2 linked regions of the Homo sapiens genome follow. The protein of the gene in region 1 purifies or fractionates together with the protein of each later gene. This does not show direct contact. Each region holds a gene or a part of one and is shown in the gene's direction. Other genes may lie near its edges. The genes, in order: RERG and ARHGEF17.

Region 1 (10,494 bases):
GCCAAAAGAAGAGGCTTCAGAATGAAACTTTCTTGGACTTCTTAACCTCCATAAATGTGAGAAATATATTTCTGTTGTTTAAGTTACCCATTCCGGGGTACTTTGTCATGGCAGCCTGAGCAGACTAATTCAGTAGGTTTGACATTGTAGATGATGGTTATACAGGCTCTGGATCCTGTTAACTTTTTCAAGAGTGTTGTATTTTGTTTTGGCAGGCTGTTAATTTGCTGGTGGATTAGATTGCTCCTGTAAAGGTCTCATTTTAGTCTCTGTTGTAGGGGGTTGTCTTTCAGATCCACCCTTAGTCCCAGGTTACAGCCCTTCTGCCTAAGGCATTAATGGTCCTCACTCCTACTTCACAAAGATTTCTGAACGCTGACTGGGCTGAAACTCGGATGTCTTCTCAGCACTCAGAGAACTCTGTAATTCACATCTTGGGATTCAGGAGCTTTCAGACTTTAGGCAGCTGTTCTTTTTTTTTTCAGTCCTTTTTTTTTTTATTACACTTTAAGTTTTAGGGTACATGTGCACATTGTGCAGGTTAGTTACATATGTATACATGTGCCATGCTGGTGCGCTGCACCCACTAACTCGTCATCTAGCATTAGGTATATCTCCCAATGCTATCCCTCCCCCCTCCCCCCACCCCACCACAGTCCCCAGAGTGTGATATTCCCCTTCCTGTGTCCATGTGATCTCATTGTTCAATTCCCACCTATGAGTGGGAATATGCGGTGTTTGGTTTTTCGTTCTTGCGATAGTTCACTGAGAATGATGATTTCCAATTCCATCCATGTCCCTACAAAGGACATGAACTCATCATTTTTTATGGCTGCATAGTATTCCATGGTGTATATGTGCCACATTTTCTTAATCCAGTCTATCATTGTCGGACATTTGGGTTGGTTCCAAGTCTTTGCTATTGTGAATAATGCCACAATGAACATACGTGTGCATGTGTCTTTATAGCAGCAAGATTTATAGTCCTTTGGGTATATACCCAGTAATGGGATGGCTGGGTCAAATGGTATTTCTAGTTCTAGATCCCTGAGGAATCGCCACACTGACTTCCACAATGGTTGAACTAGTTTACTGTCCAACCAACAGTGTAAAAGTGTTCCTATTTCTCCACATCCTCTCCAGCACCTGTTGTTTCCTGACTTTTTAATGATTGCCATTCTAAGTGGTGTGAGATGGTATCTCATTGTGGTTTTGTGTGAGATGTTATCTCATTGTGGTTTTGATTTGCATTTCTCTGATGGCCAGTGATGATGTTTACCAGATGTCTCAGAGACTCACCACGCAATGTGCAGCCCTGAAATTAGCCAAGATCCTAGGGACATTTCCATGCAAATATCTGAGCTTCTGTCTCCGTGGCTGCTGCCCTTTCTGATAGCCTTCTGAACCCAGTTGCTTTAGTAGCCCTGAACCCTAATCTCTCACTGATGTTTGGGCTTCACTTTCATGGATATGGGCCCTTAAAATGCCCCCAACAAGAAAATTTGTGTGCCTGTGAGGCTAAACTCCAGTACATCCCCTCTGTCAGATGTGCAGCCCTGCCTTGGTTGTTTGCCAATGCTTCCAAACAGCTATTTTGTATATTTTGGTTAGCCTTTATAGTTGTTCCCAGTAAACAGGAAAGTTCAATCTCAGCTAAAATCAGTCTTGCCTTTGCCTAATATTTAACTAAATAAATGGTAACAGCAATTAAATACTCATCCCAAAGTCAAAAGATAATCATTAGTAGCAACAAAATAAGGAAATGAGTATAATTTCTTGCCATGTAACTTCAAAATGAAATAAAGAAAATAAACGATCATGATATAGAAAGTCCTGGCTTTCCAGAAGCAGTACTGATGAGTGATCAAATCGTAAGTATTATTTCTCACCAGTTAAGAATGTCTGCAAATTTGGAGTGAAATGAACTGAGCAACTACACTTACCCTTTTCTGATGGGAGGAGAGGGCAGAGTGAGTAGTCATAGTAGAAATGGCTTGGGAGAGAGAGTAGAGGGCTCCAAGAATGAATGAAGAGTGCAATCTCAGGCTTAAGGGAATCTTTCTGAAACAGTATGTGATCCTGATGGCCTGCATTAAATCCTGAGACAGAGTCTTTAGTAAAACCTGAGAACAAAAGCAGAGCATGTAACCTCTCTCAGAGGCTGCACAGAGACTCAGAAGCCCTCACCTTCTCATCTCGGGATGGTAGACAGAATGCAATGCTCACCTTCAAACCATTGCTTTATAGAAAAAACAAACAGGCCTCAGACAAGGTAGGAATGAAGTCAAGCACAATTAACTGAATTTGTATCATAGCAAATATGAGTCTTGATCTAAAAAAGAAACCAATAATAAATATAAAAACACACTACACAGGAAAAAAAAGGAGGAGAAGGTCATTGTAAGCAAAAGTAGGCTAATAACAAATTTAAAAACAACAAGAAAAGGAAGAAACAGGTATTCTCAATTATACAATACAGCACCTGCAAGACCTTCTTGAAAACATTGCTTAATGAAGATATCAAGGGATGAATCAAAATAATCAATAATAGAAAAAACATGATAAAAGAATCAATGAAAGAAATTTATTCTATTTAAATATAGAACTAAGTTTAAACCACTTTGGGAATGAGAGTTATAAGTGGAAAGTGAATGTTACAAATCTTGACAATGAACAAACGAAACCTGTGTAAAAATATAGAAGGAGGGAAGAAAAAAAGAGACATAATAAAAGAGCTATTTTCTTCTTTTTAAATAGCAAACAGTCAGTTGATATTGACTAAAACAAATATATGTTTAAGCATAATGAATTCAGATCTGGTTTTATGTAATAATTCAAACTGTAAAGGAATCTTTAGGGTGAATATCTCATGAAGTAAGTGACTATCTCATGAAGTGAGTAAATATCTAAAGTTTGGTCAGCCTTTAATGTTCACTTTAATTTTGTTATCTTCTGCTTCATTAAGTGTACTTTTAAATTAAAAATAGCATCTACAGGATGATGACACTTAGCATATCTGTGCCATTTCACATACCTGTCCATCAGGATGTCTGTTTTCTACAATATCTGGAATGATGATGGTCCCCTTATGTTAACAATGGTTATTATTTCTGGATAGTGTGATTCTGGGGATGATTTTCTACATCTTTGTATTTTTCTACTGTTTGAATTATTTATAACAAACATGATTAACAGCTACACAGACATACACACACACAATTCCAGTTTCTAACATGCTTTGTGGTTATATCAACACTTCGTCTACTTGTTTTGTGTTAGAGGTTTTAGCTGAAGCCTAAGGCCAGGCTAAGAGACTTGAATGTGACAAGGACTTCCCCTTTCCCCAGGAGAATTCTTGCCCAGCAAACATATGTCATGGAACCGTAAGTACAAAGTGTCCTCTGCCCTTCTTACTGATCCATGAGGCAGGCAGCACAAGAGAGCGTGCCTCTTTTTGCTGCTTTAGAGACAAAGGAAGCAGCCCGCAGAATATAGGATACATACGGAAGATGTAACACAGTGGGAGTCAGGCTCCAAGATAGCTACTTCATCTATCTTAGAGCAGCACATCAAGAACTGCAGATGTGTATGCAAATGCCTCCCTAGTTGAGGGAGGAATGCTGTTGTTATATGGGCTAAGCAGGAAAATGGAGAGAATCAGGTTCCATAGGCAAGTTCCAAAAGAACTACTACAAATGGGACCTGGCTTGGGCCCTCTTCGAAAACTTACTATTATTATTTTTTTCTTGAGACAGAGTCTCTTTTTGTCACCTAGGCTGGAGTGCAATGGCACGATCTTGGCTTGTTACAACCACCGCCTCTGGGGTTCAAGTGATTCTCTTGCCTCAGCCTCTGGAGTAGCTGGGATTACAGGCTCCTTCCACAACGCCTGGCTAATTTTTATATTTTTAGTAGAGATGGGGTTTCACCACGTTGGCCAGGCTGGTCTCGAACTTCTGACCTCAGGTGATCCGCCCATCTCAGCCTCCCAAAGTGTTGGGATTACAGATGCGTGCCACCACGCCTGGCTAATTTTTTGTATTTTTAGTAGAGACGCTGTCTCTACCCATGTTGCCCAGGCTGGTCAATAACTCTTATTAAATAAGAGTGGCAAAGTGGGAATTCCAACTCAAGTCTCTGTAAATAGTATATTTACAGATATAGGGTCACAGATTTTTTTTTTTTTATTAAATCTTGCCCTGAGTATAAGATTTAATGGGGGAAACAAGGTAACATGTGAAACCTGAACACCTTAATGCCACACGATTCCATGTAATTGGAATTCTGTAAGATTCTATATAATGAATCTGGGTAATTATTATCCCATCCCAGACTTCAAAGATCTTCTGCATGCTAAGACACCAAAGTCTCTCTCTTTTCCAGGCCTCTTTCTTAAATGTCGCAGCCCCATACATTCAATTTCTTACTGGATGGTCTATCCTAAATCCAGTATGTAAAAAAGCTCAAACATATCCTATCACAACTTCTTCTTTATCTTAATTCATTCAATTCAGTAGGTATTCTTTAACTACCTACTATATGCCAGGCTGTAGGTATACACACTGTATGGATGATGCTGGGAATACAGAAGTCACACATGGTACATTCCTGGCTTCTGGGAGCTCACAGATTAATGGAGAGGACTAAGGGGCAGAAATGAGTACAACACAAACACAATGATAAGATCACAGGGTCCTGTGAGATACAGAGGGAGGCATCTAATCCAGATGTATGTGGTGTGGAGGGAGGGGTACATTAGTGATCAGGAAACTCATAAACCATACAATGTTTGAGCTTTCTCAAAGAACCAGCAGGGCAGCTCCTGCTCAGCTAGGCAACTCCTCTTTTTGCCATAGATCTAGCTGTTCCATTCAGCCATTCACTCGTGGCTGCAGTGACCTTCCAGGTCAGTCTGGACTCTGGAAATTGCCTCCATGGTTACCTCCCTTCCCATTGATGACATTCTACAGATCGTTCAGTTTGCCCTAGGCCCCTGTCTGTTCTATATAACACTGGTTTTCTGGAAGCCGTTTGGTATCTTGGTAAGAATACCCAGATTTATAAGGGAAAAACAATAACATAAGTGCCTCCTGCTTCTTTGCTCAGATGTTTCAGTTTTTGGGAGATCATTTAGCCTCTCTGAAGCTCACCTCCTCATCTGTGAAAGGCTAGTAATTATAATACTAGTTCTTACATGAAGAGAGGGTGTAAAAATCAAATCAGATGAGGGATATGAAAGCAGGTCCAGCACAGCTCGCATATTAATTGTCTTTGTTAGGGTCTGAGCATAATGGAGTATGACTCCAATGCAAATCCTATAAATGCTGATCCTGTAAGGAGGACGAGAAGCTTTTGGAACTTTCTCAAATATATGAATAGAATTTCAATTGAATTCCTTGTTTGTTTTTCCTAGCATCTCTCAGTTCCCAATCCAGTCTGGATTTCATTCCAGCCATTTACTAGCCTTGCGTTACCTTCTCCTTCAGTTTCCTCTTGGGTATCATGGAGATAATTAAAGATACTTCAAAGAGATATTGCGAGGATCATTTGAAATAAGGAATAGAAAACACCACGTAGTGATGCTTTCTTAGGCAAGGTTTTGACCGAGGAAAGCCGCCCTTCGGTGGGAGCCTGGAGGCTTGGAAATAACCAGTGAAAAAGGGAAGCCCGTCTTGGGTGCAGCACGTTAAAGACCCAAGCTCGCAAGCCTGGGAGGCAGCGCGGCGGGAGGAGCCTGCCCCTGCCCCCAGTAGGGGGCGCCGAAGCGCCGCACTGCAGCATCCTGGCCGCTGAGCGCAGCGGCCTTGGCCGGGCTCAGCTCGCGTCCTGCCGCAGTCCCTCCGCCGCTAGTCGGAGCGAGCGCGAGTGAGGAGACCCCCGCCGGGCCACTGGCACTTGCTTCTGCGGCGAGTCCCACCCACGACCGCAGCCCAGCAACTCGCAAACGCAACCTGAAGCCTGGGCTGCGCAGTGTGGGAGGGCTTCGCGATCTTGGGGGACCCATTCCGAACTTGCAGAGGACCGTAGCTCTCCTGGCCTGGAGAGTGTGAACAGGTGAGTGTCACGCACGTGTCCAGGCAGCTCTTTCGGGACGACTTCCTGCAGACCCATTCCGAGCCCTGAGCGCGCTCGGCCTCTGAGTCGGTCCTCTTGGTCACCGGGTTCTCCTCCCAGGGCGGCTTTGGGGTTCGCTGCGAGGGAGATGTGAACACCAGCAGCCTATCTTGACAGGGCTCTCCTAGCTGAGAGGGAAAATGCCCTTTTGACTTAAGGCTGCATTTTCTCCCTAGCCTGAAAGCAAGTGACTTGCAGTCCACAATGGATTTGTTTATTCTTGCAAGATACCTGTTGAGTTCAGAGCAACATTAAATAGCCAAGGGGCTTATACAATTATCCTGGTTTGCTGTGGGTACTGCGTAGTGATAAGAAGAGGAAGAATTCCTAGTAATGAGACCAGGAAAACTTGATTTCAGAACCAGAGAAGGGGAGGCCAAAAAAGAAGAGAATCTCATTTCCAGGCCTAGACTAGGGTCTTTGCTTCCCTAAATAGCTACACTTGATTTTGATGAGCGCATGCAAACAGAAGTTCCAAGCATGATTACCTTATAAAGACGCTTGCTTGCCCCACCCCCAAGAGGAAGTAGAAAGCATGAACCTTGATAAATATAGCCTTGAGAATGATTTATTAGGAATGAAAACTTTCTTTAAATAAGTAAGTAAATAAGGTTACAGTTATCTAAATATCATAGGTCTAACAGAGTGTAAGCTCTTCGAAGGGAACTACTTTTATTTGTATGTGCATAGCGTGAAAGTGTGGAATAAATCAATGAATGCATCACTAATAATACAGGATTTTAGCTAGCGTTTTTCCTTTTTCCTTTAATTTATGTTTAGGGAAAAAAAAACCTACACCTTCAAACTAAATAGGTATGATTTTACCTTTAGAGTGATAGCAGCTGAGATGTTTTTGTCCTAATAAGCACCATCCACATAAAAAGTGAATGGCAAATTTCAGCCCTACTCAGAATATTTCAGCAGAACATTAGGACAAATGGATTTTCTTAGATCCACGTATGGAAGCTCTCAGATTATGAATTATTTGGAACATCAGAAACTTGGCAACAGTTTACTTATTACAACAATTTACATATTTATTTTTGTTTTCTATCTTGTCAAATGTAACTTTTCACATTTTCATGTGAGAAATAAAATGTTGAAGAACTCCTGTCAGTTTTGTGTCTTCCTTTAAGTGATTTTTCTAAACATAAAATTAGGTTGACAATAACCAGCTGTATCTTTATTAGGTTATAAATGGAAAAAATAGCCCACACAATTTCTCTTTCTTATGTGAAATTCCTATGCCTCTGGGGCCATTTGGGAGTTACTAAAAAATGTGACTTGTCATTTTTTTAAAATCACATTTGATGGCTACTTTCATGAAACATTAATCAGACAGATAATTACTTGCATTTTATATCCATGTATATGAACAGTTTTGCATGAAACAAAATTATTGTTTATACTAGCTGCAGACACTTGCGTGTTCAATGTTTCAAAGAAATACTTGCCAGCACCTCTTCTCATTTATAATTTAAATAGTTAATATATCTCCACATATTATGTTTCTGTGATGAAGCCCTGAACCTTAAAAACATAGGGCCTTTTCTTAATGAATGCATCTAAAGTGACAAATAAGGAAATCTTTTTATCTTTAGCCAAAAATATGGGACTGGACAAATTGCAGATGTTTAAGCTTCTGGTTTTTGCTAATAATGATTACTTAGACACTTTGTCATTATTGAGGATGAAGTAAACAATAGCTAATGTTAATGTTGATTTTTCCTTCCTTCAGAGGAAGCTCTGGCACTTTGAAAATCAGCAAATACAAAACCTTATTAGGTACAGGATGATAGCTTAAATACCTAAGGAAGAAAACAATTACATGATAATGTCTTTGTAGAAATACTTTTTCAGGCGGATTTTCACTTTTTAATTTCTCTCTCAAGAAGCTCTTTGTAAAAATTTATAGATGGAAAAATCTGGCAGGAACATTTAACACATTTAGATAACATATTTGTGTTTAAAACATCTTTACTGCCTTGAAAATGGAATGAATTATGCAGACTGGTGTGATTAAGATTAACACGGGTAAAAGTGCTGTGCTGTATTTAGGTTTAAGCCATTGATTGCAAATGTTCGGAATGAGGGGGTCTGCAGTCCGTGTAAAAGATGTGAGGCTTAATGTGATTGGCTGTGCTACAGTATAACCATGGTGGGCAGATTAACGATAGTGAAAATCTCAGGGAATTTACACCGGGTCAGTTTGTCAGGTCATATCTCAAAGTGGAATGCAGTGGACACCATGCTTTTAGAGTGATTAAGATGTTGAGGAGGCAATGCACATGATGAAAAAGGGAGTGAAGGTCAAAAAAACATAAACGAGAGTGTACATTCCGGGAAGAACAAGTGGACAGGCTGGGCCTCATGTTCCTAGAAAAAAGAAGCCTAGGATGGAGCAAAGGGTCCTACTAGATGCTAGGATCCTTGAACGGTTCTGAGTGAAAGAAAAAGTTGACTTGTTTTGAGTTATTTCATAGAGAGAAATGAGGACAAATGAGTAGAAGCCGCAGGGAGACAGTTTAGAGCTCAATATTAGAAAGATAGTTCCTCCTAATTGGAGAAATGAAGCAGCTTTCAGAAGTAATGAGCCCACCTTTCATACCTGGAAGTGGTAAGTCAGGCATGGAATATGGAATGATTGTTATGTCCTAAGGAAAGATTCTTGCTAGAAGAATGGCTAGAAGATTTCTTCAGATGACCCCCACTCCAGCCCCCACCACCACCAAAGCTCTTTCCAAATTTACGTTTCCATGATCCTAAGAACCTAGATGTCACTCCTAAAGCACCAAACTAAATAAGATGTGCTTACTTTGTACATAATGTTATTTCCCAAGCTTTAAGACAGCACTATAAACAAATTTACTTGAAGTCATCATAGAAAAGGAATAACTTGGAGCATGGCATTTATCGTTTTTGTACCAGGGCATTGTGTCCAGCAAAATATAGAAATGTAATCTATGTATTATATATTGATTCCTAGAACATGTGTATCTGTATCTGTCACAGGAATTCATCATGTGATCAAGTGTGAATTGAGAAAAAATTTAACTTTGAGATGCAAAATTGAATTGTGTTGCATTGGAGTTGACTAATATGAATGTATGTTATTCAACCCAAAGAGACATGAAGAGGCCCAAAAGTGACTCTCTCCATTGCCCCACTGCATGTGTTTGTACACTGAATGCTTACAGATAGATGGTAAATGTGTGTATTCACTTTTACTTTCAGTTACTATCAAGAATCAATACCTTCATAAGAAAATTTCTTGAGGAAGTACTTTAGAAATGCTATTGTGTGTGATAATGCACGTTTTAGTACCAACCAGATCCAAATCCAAGTCCTGAATCTACCATTTATTAGTTAAATCATTTACAGTAAGTTACCATAGACTTCTCACAGGATAGTGGTAAAGATCAAACCAGAAAATGTTGAAAAAGTGAATGGTGGCTGGCATATAGTAGATGCTCAATAAATATTAATTCATTTTCCAGTCACTTATGAATTCCCAAATTTCTTTTGTTTAAGGATTGTGGACTCTTCCAAGATTCACAATGATATGGTGAATCCAAAGACTGGAACCAAAAAGATTTACTCAGTGCTTTAGTTTTAACAACAGTAAATTGTCTACCAACACCCATCATGGCTAAAAGTGCGGAGGTCAAACTGGCAATATTTGGGAGAGCAGGCGTGGGCAAGTCAGGTAAGATTTTCGTTGTGGTTGTTATAGTGTGTGTGTGTGGGTGAGTGTGTTTCTTTATTACTGTTTCTTGGGATTGGGCAGGTGAGTAGTTGGTATTCCTCCTATTTTCATTTCTTACTCTTTTAGATAAAGTCTCTTCATCTAGAACTTTTATTTTGCGTAATCGACTGTTACGTATCCTTTTGCTTATTTATGCTGAAGTAGCTTTGCTGATAACACACAAGATAAAGGATATATCAGAGGTCTTGGCATTCTGATTTTTAACAACCTCCAAAGAAATCAGATGATGGAAATTAAAAAATATATATTTGTTCTTTTCTCTATGTATGAGATCTTGAGGGACTGATTTTACATCTCATTCATTTTGATATTCTCAGCAAACAGTCCAGTGTCAAGCATGTGTTAGGTGCTTTAAAAATGCTTAAGTGAATCTAGCTTTATCAGAAACAGAATTGCATTATTGCCAAACACTCAAAAATCCTGAGAGGATTCCTGAAACTTTAGGAGTGCATGCTCTCAAGCAAGATAGCTATTGCGAATGCCTCTGCAGTGAATTTAAATTAGCAAGTTCTGGCTAACATCAGTAATTCAGAGACTTTGTTCACTATCTGAGAAATCGCTAGCAGACCTTTAAGATTAAGGGTGAAATGGTGGAAGTGAAAAATGTACCTGCT
Region 2 (10,941 bases), on another chromosome or scaffold:
GGAATGGTCAGCCCCAAAGTGGCTTGAGCTCAAGTGGGTGGGTGGGCTTCATGAAAGAAAGAGTGGGAAGAGGGGAGTCGTTCTGGGAACTCCAAGATTAGGGAGCTGAGGAGAAGGAGCCACAGACGTGGAGGGCAGGAGCCCAGGGGTCTCTGAATGATGGTGGTATGAGGGGAGAGTGGAGCTGGGTGAGTGAGTGAGAGGTTTCAGGGAAGGAAGTAGGGGTAGTAGGCGGAGAAGAGAAGAGGGAGAAAGATTCCAAGAAAGGCCAGGCCCAGGGATGGAGTTTCCAGGACAAAGTTGTTGCTGAGAGTTGGCTGGTGGCAGTTGAGGGCAGAGAACCCGGGTGGGGTGGGGGTGGGGAGGTAGGAGCAAGGATTGGGAAGCTAGAAAGTCGGGAATCAGTGACTGTCTTGGGGAAATTTCCATTCCAAACAGGAAAAGCCCAGGAGCATTTGATCTGTCCTAGCAATGGACAAAGCTGGCCTCTTCCTCCCTCATTCATTTGTTCAATGAATATTGACTCTGTGTTTCTGAGACGAGCTCAGGTCCAGGCCCTAGTCTTGGGAAAGAATCCAAGGGGTTTGGGATGCAGACAAGGAAACAGTTCATCCAGTAAACAATACTTATTGGGCACCTCCTATATGCCAAGCATCATGCTGGGCCCTCAGGGAGCCCCTAGTCTGATGGAGGAGACAGGTAATAATGAAACATATACAGACCTGGATCATTACAGCTGGGGAAGAGAGCTCAGATCATAAAGAGGACCCAGGCAAGGAAGGTATCACTAGGGAGATGATGAGCTCCTGGAATGGTCCATGGCCAAGAAATGCTAAATACCAGAGGGGCCCTGACCTAGTTGAGGGGCAGAAAATGTATCTGAGTGAGGCCTAGAGCCTCAGAAGGCCTCAGAAGGCATTAGCTCAGTGCAGAAGGGCTGCAACAGAGTCTGTGACTTTGACCAAGCACCTTCACTCCTCTGAGCCTCTGTTTCCTTACCTGTAAAATACTAGACCTTCCTAAGCCACCAGGGATACCGAGGAATAGAAAAGTTAGAGCAGAAATTTCATAAAGTACTAAACATACTATAACCCAATAGAAAAATGAGCAAGAGGCACAAATAAGCACTTCATATGAAAGGAAACACAAGGCCAGGCGTGGTGGCTCATGCCTGTAATCCTAGCATTTTGGGAGGCTGAGATGGGCGGATCACAATGTCAGGAGTTTGAGACCAGCCTGACCAACATGGTGAAACCTTGTGTCTACTAAAATATAAAAATTAGCTGGGCGTGGTGGCATGCACCTGTAATCCCAGCTACTTGGGAGGCTGAGGCAGGAGAATTGCTTGAACCTGGGAGGCAGAGATTGCAATGAGCCAAGATCACACCATTGCACTCCAGCCTGGGCAATAAGAGAGAAACTCCGTCTCAAAAAAAAAAAAAAAAAAAAAAAAGGAAACACAGATGATTAAAAAACATAGACGAGAAATTAGATCCCAGCTTGACAATGCTTCCCAATGTTGATCAATTGCCTGCCCTATGCCCAAGCACTTCTGTCCATGTGTACCTGGAGTCATGCACAATGCTCAGCAAACACCTGGAAACACCCAAATGTGCATCAGCAAGACACTGGATCAACACACTGTGATATAGTCACACACTGAAATAGTCCACATGGCCAGAATGGAGTATAGAGGCATGCAACAATATGGGTAAATCTTTTCTTAATATTAAGAAAAAAGAAGTCCCAACAAATTTTGTAAAGCAAGAAACCCCCCTCCTTTTTTTTTTTTTTTTTTGAGACAGTCTTGCTCTGTTGCCCAGGCTGGAGTGCAGTGGTGTGATCTTGGCTCACTGCAACCTCCACCTCCTGGGTTCAAGTGATTCTCCTGCCTCAGCCTCCCAAGAAGCTGGGATTATAGGCATGCACCACCACGCCTGGCTAATTTTTGTATTTTTAACAGAGGCTGGGTTTCACCATGTTGGCCAGGCTGGTCTTGAACTCCTGGCCTCAAGCAATCCACCCGCCTCAGCCTCCCAAAGTGTTGGGATTACAGGCGTGAGCCACCACGTCCAGCAGGATGCCTTTTTTTTTTTTATAAAGTTAAGAACAACTAAAATGAAAAGATATAGTTTGAAGGAATATATAGTTTGAAGGAATATGTTTGAAGGAAAGCAAGAGAATGCTGAACACAGGATTTGAGATGATGATTTTCTGATTTTCTGTGTGGTGGGACAGCAGGAGGATGGGAGCAGAAGAACTGTATAATGAGATGTGAATTATTTTAAAGGTCCTAGTTGTATTGTTTTGTTTTTTGGCGAAAGCCAATTAAATAACTGATGAGAATGTATCATTATCAAAATATTATAAAGAATTTAATCCTGTGTGCTTAAGGTCTAATTATATAGGAAAGGGGGCAATCTCAGATAGTTTCTATTTGGCTTTGCAATGGAGTCAGAAGAGTCAGATTTCCCCCTAAGACAGCTCCTTCATGGAGCTCATTGCTTCTTGTCCCCGCACTCATCATTTCTCTCCCTCTTAAGTACAGTTGCTCCTCGACTTACGATGAGGTTACATCCCAATAAACCCACTGAAAATATTATAAGTCAAAAAGACATTTAATACACCTAGCCTACCAAACATCAGAGCTTAGCCTAACCCACCTTAAACAGGCCCAGAACACTTCCATAGCCTAGAGTTGGACAAAAATCATCTAACACAAAGCCTATTTTATAATAAAATGCTGAATATCTCATGTAATTTATTGAATACTGAAAGTGAAAAACAGAATGATTATATGTGTGCTCAAAGTATGGTTTCTACTGGATGTACATAGCTTTTGCATCATCATAAAGTCAAAAAATCATTAAGTTGAAATATCATGAGCTGGGGACTTATCTGTACCCGAAGCCCACCAAAGCCCATCACTGGCCATGACCTGTGACCTTCAAAACCTTCCCATCTTGATTTCCCCAAGGGATTCCACGGTCCTCACCTCACTAGATCACCATGACTCACTGGGTAGATGGGCTATTGTTTTCATTACCCTTTCATAGGTGAGGAGCCTGGGGCCCAGAGAAAAGGGGGTGAGCTGCGGAAGGTGAGCCTGGCTTCAAAACCCCAGCGTAGGGTTTCTCTCCACTCTGGTGCCCAGTGCTCCCAGCCCCCTATCAAATAAGTCTTCTTGGGGCTAAAAATTGCTGTACATAATTACCAAGCACCATTAAAATTCCAGATCTCTTCTGTTCATGGAAGATAACTTTGTCTTATACTGGATCATAAGGAGCTGGGGGTGGGAGGGTTCCTGAAGCACTGGAAGCAATCAAGCCACTCTCAGATTGGGTGAGCTTCCCTTTGGACAGAGACCCAGTCTAGATCCTTAAACACCCCCCTCCCCACCAAGGGGATTCCTGAGCCAAAGGCCCCAGCCAGCTCACCTCAAGGCCAAGCCACAGGACTCTGGGAGCCCATGACCTGAACCTCCACTCCTCTCTATCCACTTGCCCATCTGTGATATGGGATAAGGGTTTCTGTCCCAGAACTGACAGGGAGGTGGAAAAGTACAAATTTCAGATAGTAAGAGTCATCATTATGGGGGGAGAGAGTGACTCCTGGGATGAGAGTCCTGTCCCCCACCCCTCCACAACCCACCCCTCCACAACTCACCCCTCCACAACTCACCCCTCCCCAACTCACCCCTCCACAACTCACCCCACAGCACACACCAAAACTTGCCCCAAAGAGCAGAAAGAAAATACTAAAGGAGGTGAGAGTCTGACATCAAATGCCAGAGCCAGAGAGGGCACTCTTGGGGAACCTGAACCACTCCTCACTTTTCAGACACCCCACTCCTCACTTTTCAGACACCAGCAAGTGCAGGGATTTACCCAAGGTCACAGAGTAAGGCCGAACAGAGAGGCACAGGCCAGCAGGGCTCTCTTTTATCAATTTCCTAGAGAAAAGGGAGAGATTTACTCCTTGGCCCCCTTGAGGCAGAGCTGAGATGAGGTTGAGGTGAGGGACTCCCTGGATGCTGGTCTCAACACAGAGAGGAAGCACTTTCTTGCTACAGAGATATTCCACAACTCAAGAGGCTGCCCAGAGAGTGGAGAGTGACCTCCTCATCCTGTGGGGTATATGAGTAGCAAGCAGGTTCTGGAGTCCCGGCTGAGTCCTCTCTCTCTCATTCGGTAGTCAGGCAATCCCTGGGTGTCTACCATCCTTTCCTATCCTCCTGCCTGCCCCTCTCCTCTGAACCCCGTCTCCTAGCCTAGTCTGGCCCAGCTACATCTCCTTGGCTGGACCTGGTGGCAGTGGGGTTGGCTGGGTAATGCACAGACTGCTGACCTAACTATGTGTCCCCGAGGCCTTGCTACTGGGGGTTGGAGGGGCCAGGGCAGTTTGACCAGGCCTGAAGAAGGCTGGGCAGCGCTGGAGGGGCATGGGTCAGACCAGGTTATCCTCTGTTCCTGAGGAGAGTGAGCTCAGGCCCAAGGAGGAGAAGGAGGAGACTGGGGGCTCAAAGGAACGAGAACCTCCTTCTTCATCAGGATTTGGGGGTGCATCTCAGAGCTGGCTGGAGGAGCATGGTGTTTGAAGCCCCTGAAATCTGAATTTTAGCAGGAGCTGCTATTTCCTGACTTGCATAGTGGTCAAAGTTACTTCTCCTTCACGGTCCACAGAGAAGGGGTAATAATATTTGTCCCCAAGGGTGGTTTGTGGATTTTAAAAAATAAGTTAAATAATATTGCCCATACATTATAGGTACTCCATACATTTTCATTCGTTCGTTCATTCGTTAGTTGGGCCGGGAGGATGAATGGGATCTAGAGGCAGGTGGGAATGCGGAAGGGGATGATGCCCCAATACCGAGAACAATGTGAGACTCAGACGGAGGCAGGGGCGGGAGGGGAGCTCAAGCGAGGGATCAGCGTGAAGCCAGAGAAACAACCGACACTTTTCCTGCCAAGAAGGTGAAGCAGCTGCGGGTAAGAGTATAGGTTTGGCAGTGGGAAGTCGAGGGCGTTCCCGTCGAAGCTCCTTTTGTGTATAAGGCCTAAGAAGGGGCAGTGCGCTTTGCGAAGGTCTGAAAAAGACTAAGGGGATTAGGTAACGACTGAAAGGAAGTTTTCACAACTCTCCGTTTTTGGGGGATGGGTGCTGCTTTATCCGTCCAGGACTCCGTGCGTTGGGAAAATCACGCCGCGAGGGGGCGCAAGAGCCGCGTACTCCAGAGCAAGAAGAAAAGGCTCGGGGATCCAGGCGGAGAGTCCAGGAGAAGAGCCGCCAGACTGCAGGGGCAGGTGGAAGGCGTGGCAGCTGGAAAAGTAGGGGTGGGGGCGCGGTCGTGAAGGGTGGGACTTCTGGAGCAACGCTGGGCGGGTTGGGGGCCGGTCGGAGCCGGACAGGCGGCTGGGAGGTGGGATGGGCGGGGCGCTTGGGAGCGAGATGGGGGGACAAGGGCGTGGCTACAGCTAAATTCGCCGCAGAGGGCGGGCGGGGAGGGGGAGGGAAGGGGAGGAGGCGTGGCCTGGGCGGGGAGTAGGGCGCGACGGACCCTTCAGTTAGCCCGCGGCTCCCCGGGCTCTCCCTGGCGCCGAGTCCCACCCCTTTCCCGGCCCAGAGAGTGTGCGTCTGCGTGCACCTGAGTGTCAGTGTGTACGAGAGTTTGTGAGTCCGAGGTTGCCATGTTGGAGCCCCTGGGCAGGAGGTGTTTCCGCGCGGAGGCTGGTGGCCCGCGGTGGACGCGGCGCCCTGGCTGCGAGTCTGCGGAGCTGAGCACGCTCAGCGGTTGTGTGTGTCTCAGCGACTCCCTGGGGGCAGCTCGGCCTGCTGGGCTCCCGAGGGACCTCTCTGGAGGGCCAGAGGGTCGCCTCAGTCTGCAAGTCCTCCAGCAGGCTTTTTCTTCTTCGGCTCCTCCCTGATTCCCTCCCACCACGCGGTTCCCAGGCTCGCGCACGCCCGGAGCCCACCCCCTCTTTTGGGCGCGAGGCCCCGCCCCCCGCCCCCTTGCCTCTGCCGCAAAGTTTATTTGCAACAAAAGGGTGCCAGGAGCGAGCAGCCAAGGGCGTTGGGCAGGCGGACGCAGAGTCGAGGAACCAAGCGCTGGGATCCCGCCCAGGCGGTGCCGCGGTGCCCCTGGTCGCTCCAGCCGCGGCGGGGGCTGGGCCTGGGGGTCGGCGCTGAGGCGGGAGGGGCCGCCCGGGATGGAGACGTTGCGGCCGGTGGCCACAGAAACTTGAGCCGCGGCAGAGAAACCTCTGCTCCGGTCTCTGCGTCCTCTTCCCACACTCCCGTGCGCTGCTTTCGGCGTGGGCCGCTGCGCTCCTAGGGAGTGGGGGCGCAGGGGGGGTTGGCCGCGGCTGCCCGAGGCCAGCCCCCCCGGAGTGAGTTACGCCACTATGGCGGACGGGGCACCCCGGCCCCAGCTTTACCGCAGCGTCTCGTTCAAGCTGCTGGAGCGCTGGAGCGGCGGCCCCGGGCTGAGGGAGGAGGACACGGACACCCCCGGCTTGAGGCGACGCGCCTCGTGCCGGCCGACCACGGCTGCCCGGGGCCAGCCCTCTCGGCGCGTGTCCAAGCTGGCGTCTGGGCCCCTGGCCGCCCCCGCGCAGCCGCGCCCGCTCCGCAGCCTCTCGCCGTCGGTTCGCCAGCTCTCCCGGCGCTTCGACGCGCCGCGTCTGGACGACGGCTCCGCTGGGACCCGAGACGGAGGCGTCTTACCCGCGGCCGCGGAAGAAGCGGCCGAGGGCCCAGCGCGAGGAGCCTGGCCCAGCGTCACCGAGATGCGCAAGCTCTTCGGCGGTCCTGGCTCCAGGAGGCCCAGCGCCGACTCTGAATCCCCAGGAACGCCCAGCCCCGACGGTGCCGCGTGGGAGCCTCCGGCTCGGGAGTCGCGGCAGCCACCGACGCCACCCCCTCGGACATGCTTCCCCCTGGCGGGTCTGCGTTCGGCGCGGCCCCTGACCGGGCCGGAGACCGAAGGGAGGCTGCGCCGGCCGCAGCAGCAACAGGAGCGGGCGCAGCGTCCAGCGGATGGTTTACATTCTTGGCATATCTTCTCCCAACCGCAGGCCGGGGCCCGGGCCTCCTGCTCCTCCTCCTCCATCGCCGCCTCCTATCCTGTCAGCCGCAGTCGTGCTGCCAGCTCCAGCGAGGAGGAAGAGGAGGGCCCGCCGCAGCTGCCTGGAGCCCAGAGTCCGGCCTACCACGGCGGCCACTCCTCGGGCAGTGACGACGACCGAGACGGTGAGGGCGGCCACCGCTGGGGAGGGAGGCCCGGGCTCAGGCCTGGAAGCTCCCTATTGGATCAGGACTGCAGGCCTGACAGTGATGGGTTAAATCTAAGCAGCATGAACTCAGCAGGGGTTTCTGGGAGCCCTGAGCCCCCAACATCTCCAAGAGCCCCTAGAGAAGAAGGACTCCGGGAGTGGGGTAGTGGCTCTCCGCCCTGCGTCCCAGGTCCCCAGGAGGGACTTCGGCCTATGTCTGACTCTGTGGGAGGAGCTTTCCGTGTGGCCAAGGTGAGCTTTCCCTCGTACCTGGCCAGCCCCGCAGGCTCCCGCGGTAGCAGCCGTTATTCCAGCACGGAGACCCTCAAGGACGACGACCTATGGTCTAGTAGGGGTTCTGGGGGCTGGGGCGTGTACCGCTCCCCTAGCTTTGGAGCTGGGGAAGGGCTCCTGCGGTCCCAGGCTCGAACCCGTGCCAAAGGACCTGGAGGCACCTCTAGGGCATTGAGGGATGGAGGATTTGAGCCTGAAAAGAGTCGACAGCGGAAGTCCCTGTCAAATCCAGATATCGCCTCAGAGACCCTGACGCTTCTCAGTTTCCTGCGCTCAGACCTTTCAGAGCTGAGGGTCCGAAAACCTGGTGGGAGCTCCGGGGACCGTGGAAGCAACCCCCTAGATGGCAGAGACTCACCATCCGCAGGTGGCCCTGTGGGGCAACTTGAACCCATACCCATCCCAGCCCCAGCATCACCTGGCACGCGCCCCACACTCAAGGACTTGACAGCCACTCTGCGGAGAGCAAAGTCATTCACCTGCTCTGAGAAGCCCATGGCCCGCCGCCTGCCCCGCACCAGTGCTCTGAAGTCCAGCTCCTCCGAGCTCCTGCTCACAGGCCCTGGTGCCGAGGAGGATCCGCTGCCCCTCATCGTCCAGGACCAATATGTGCAGGAGGCCCGCCAGGTTTTTGAGAAGATCCAGCGCATGGGTGCCCAACAAGATGATGGAAGCGATGCCCCCCCTGGAAGCCCTGACTGGGCAGGGGATGTGACCCGAGGGCAGCGGTCCCAGGAGGAGCTCTCAGGCCCTGAGTCCAGTCTGACAGATGAAGGCATTGGGGCAGACCCTGAGCCTCCTGTTGCAGCATTTTGCGGCCTGGGTACCACAGGGATGTGGCGACCTCTTTCCTCATCCTCGGCCCAGACGAACCACCATGGCCCTGGGACTGAGGACAGTCTGGGCGGGTGGGCCCTGGTGTCGCCTGAGACCCCTCCCACACCAGGTGCCCTCCGCCGACGACGCAAAGTCCCACCTTCAGGTTCTGGTGGGAGCGAATTGAGCAATGGGGAGGCAGGGGAGGCCTACAGGTCCCTGAGTGACCCAATTCCTCAGCGCCACCGGGCTGCCACCTCTGAAGAGCCTACTGGGTTCTCTGTGGACAGCAACCTCCTGGGCTCACTGAGCCCCAAGACAGGGCTCCCTGCCACCTCAGCCATGGATGAGGGCTTGACCAGTGGTCACAGTGACTGGTCTGTGGGCAGTGAAGAGAGCAAGGGATATCAGGAGGTTATTCAGAGCATAGTTCAGGGGCCTGGCACCCTGGGGCGTGTGGTGGACGACAGGATTGCTGGCAAAGCCCCCAAGAAGAAATCCCTGAGTGACCCCAGCCGCCGTGGGGAGCTGGCTGGGCCTGGATTCGAGGGCCCTGGAGGGGAGCCCATCCGAGAAGTTGAGCCCATGCTGCCTCCATCCAGCAGCGAGCCCATCCTTGTAGAGCAGCGGGCAGAGCCAGAAGAACCTGGTGCCACCAGGAGCCGGGCACAGTCTGAAAGGGCCCTACCTGAGGCTCTGCCTCCCCCTGCCACTGCCCACCGAAACTTTCACCTTGACCCCAAGCTGGCTGACATTCTGTCCCCGAGGCTAATCCGCCGAGGCTCCAAGAAGCGCCCAGCTCGGAGTAGTCACCAGGAGCTTCGGAGAGACGAGGGCAGTCAGGACCAGACTGGCAGCCTGTCTCGGGCCCGGCCCTCCTCCAGACACGTTCGCCATGCCAGTGTGCCCGCCACATTTATGCCTATTGTGGTGCCTGAGCCACCAACTTCTGTTGGTCCCCCTGTGGCTGTGCCAGAACCCATAGGCTTCCCTACCCGAGCCCATCCCACGTTGCAGGCACCATCGCTCGAGGACGTCACCAAGCAGTACATGCTGAACCTGCACTCCGGTGAGGTCCCTGCCCCAGTGCCAGTGGACATGCCCTGCTTGCCTCTGGCTGCACCGCCCTCTGCTGAGGCCAAGCCCCCTGAGGCAGCTCGGCCTGCAGATGAGCCTACCCCTGCCAGCAAGTGCTGCAGCAAGCCACAGGTGGTGAGTCCTTTGTAGGGGCCTTCAGATTGGGGCCAAAGAAGGGCCATGGGCACCGACTTCGGTTGGAGCCTTTTGCATTGTATTCACTGGTCAGGTGCCCAGGTGCCAAGGGTGCTTTTCTGGTCCTGGAAGTGCCTGTGCAGTTTTAAGAGTTGTTAATGACACAGGGCTCCTGTCTACTCAGGCCCTGTAGAAGCTTCAGTTTTCTGCTGGTGCTAATGGCAAAGGGTCTTGTCTGCTCCAGGTGTTCTGGGTGGTAATTACAAAGGATTCTTATCTTGTCCTTTGGATGTTTCTCAGGGACTGGTTTTGGAAATCCCTGTGTGGTTCTTTGTTGGAGGGATGAGTGTGATGGCACCCAGCGCAGGCTCAGTCCTTTCTCTGAGGCTTGCTACTCTGTTGGCCAGACCCTTGATAGGATGTTTGGCTCAGGGGCCACAGTTGACATGGGTTTGCCCTTCTTCGTGTGGCTTTCCTGTGACAGGTCAGAATATAGATGTGTTCCTGGGCCTGGGAGAATTGGGGAGGTACAAGGCTTTACTTTATGGAGGAGCAGAGGGGGCTCAGGGTTCTAACTGCAGTTCTGTTCTTGCTGTGTGACATTGGCCTTTCTCTGTGACTTAATCTCCCCAATCAGGGGAGATAGGTGGACAAACTAGTGCCTATGTTTCCATCCAGCTGGTACTGTGCAGATTTGGGGGAGCCTGCGGTTTTGAGTTGGGGACTCTTGGGGCCTGAGTTCTGCCAGAGCCTCCTCAGATGAAAAAAGCTTCTAGATGGGGGCTTCTAGGGGAGGATAGAGGCAGGGAGGGGGCTGCAGAGGCTGGGCAGCCAGGGCCCTTTAGAGAGGTCAGGAGTGGTTCTGGGCCCCATATTCAGGGCTGCCTCTATGGGTCTGGGGGGTCGGTTCTTGTTCCCCCATCCTGTCTGCTTGCATCTTTTCCCCACTCTACCCCCTTCTTGGTGACTCTGAGATGCACCCCGTTTCTGCCAGACCCCCAGCCCTGGGGGCTCACTCTCCCTGAGACCCCTCCTTCTACCTTCTGGCTTCAGCTATCCCTGGAGTTTAGGCTGTGGATTCAGATGGGATCCAGATGGCATATGCCCTGGCATCTGGGTTGGGAGCTAGATTCCAGGCTGTGGATTCTGAGCTGAGCTCAGCGATGGCCAGTGGTTACTTCAACTGTGGCCTGCGCTCCCACTGCGCTCCCTGACTGTGTGAGAAGCCTGGAAATTATAAACCCTGGACTGATTCAGTCACTCCCTTTCCCAGCACTCTCATGGCCCCTCTGAACTCCCTTTCTCTTTGTTTCTCTCTCCTTGTCTCCAGTTACCCCTGGTCCTGGCT

What was found.
Region 2: the proteins of RERG (region 1) and ARHGEF17 purify together in Homo sapiens (affinity purification with mass spectrometry; 2 studies listed by BioGRID and IntAct, with this or other methods). This does not show direct contact.

Annotation. Positions count from the first base shown.
Region 1 is NC_000012.12:15,216,755-15,227,248, reverse strand, and holds the start of RERG (ras-related and estrogen-regulated growth inhibitor), read left to right. Parts: upstream 1-6,004; 5' UTR 6,005-6,054; exon of another isoform or gene 6,055-6,581; intron 6,582-9,645; 5' UTR 9,646-9,759; coding exon 9,760-9,820; intron 9,821-10,494. Other genes in the region: uncharacterized protein LOC124902886, read right to left, coding at 5,687-6,004. UniProt on the Homo sapiens protein: Binds GDP/GTP and possesses intrinsic GTPase activity. Has higher affinity for GDP than for GTP. In cell lines overexpression leads to a reduction in the rate of proliferation, colony formation and in tumorigenic potential.
Region 2 is NC_000011.10:73,302,238-73,313,178, forward strand, and holds the start of ARHGEF17 (rho guanine nucleotide exchange factor 17), read left to right. Parts: upstream 1-6,038; 5' UTR 6,039-6,401; coding exon 6,402-9,593; intron 9,594-10,941. UniProt on the Homo sapiens protein: Acts as a guanine nucleotide exchange factor (GEF) for RhoA GTPases.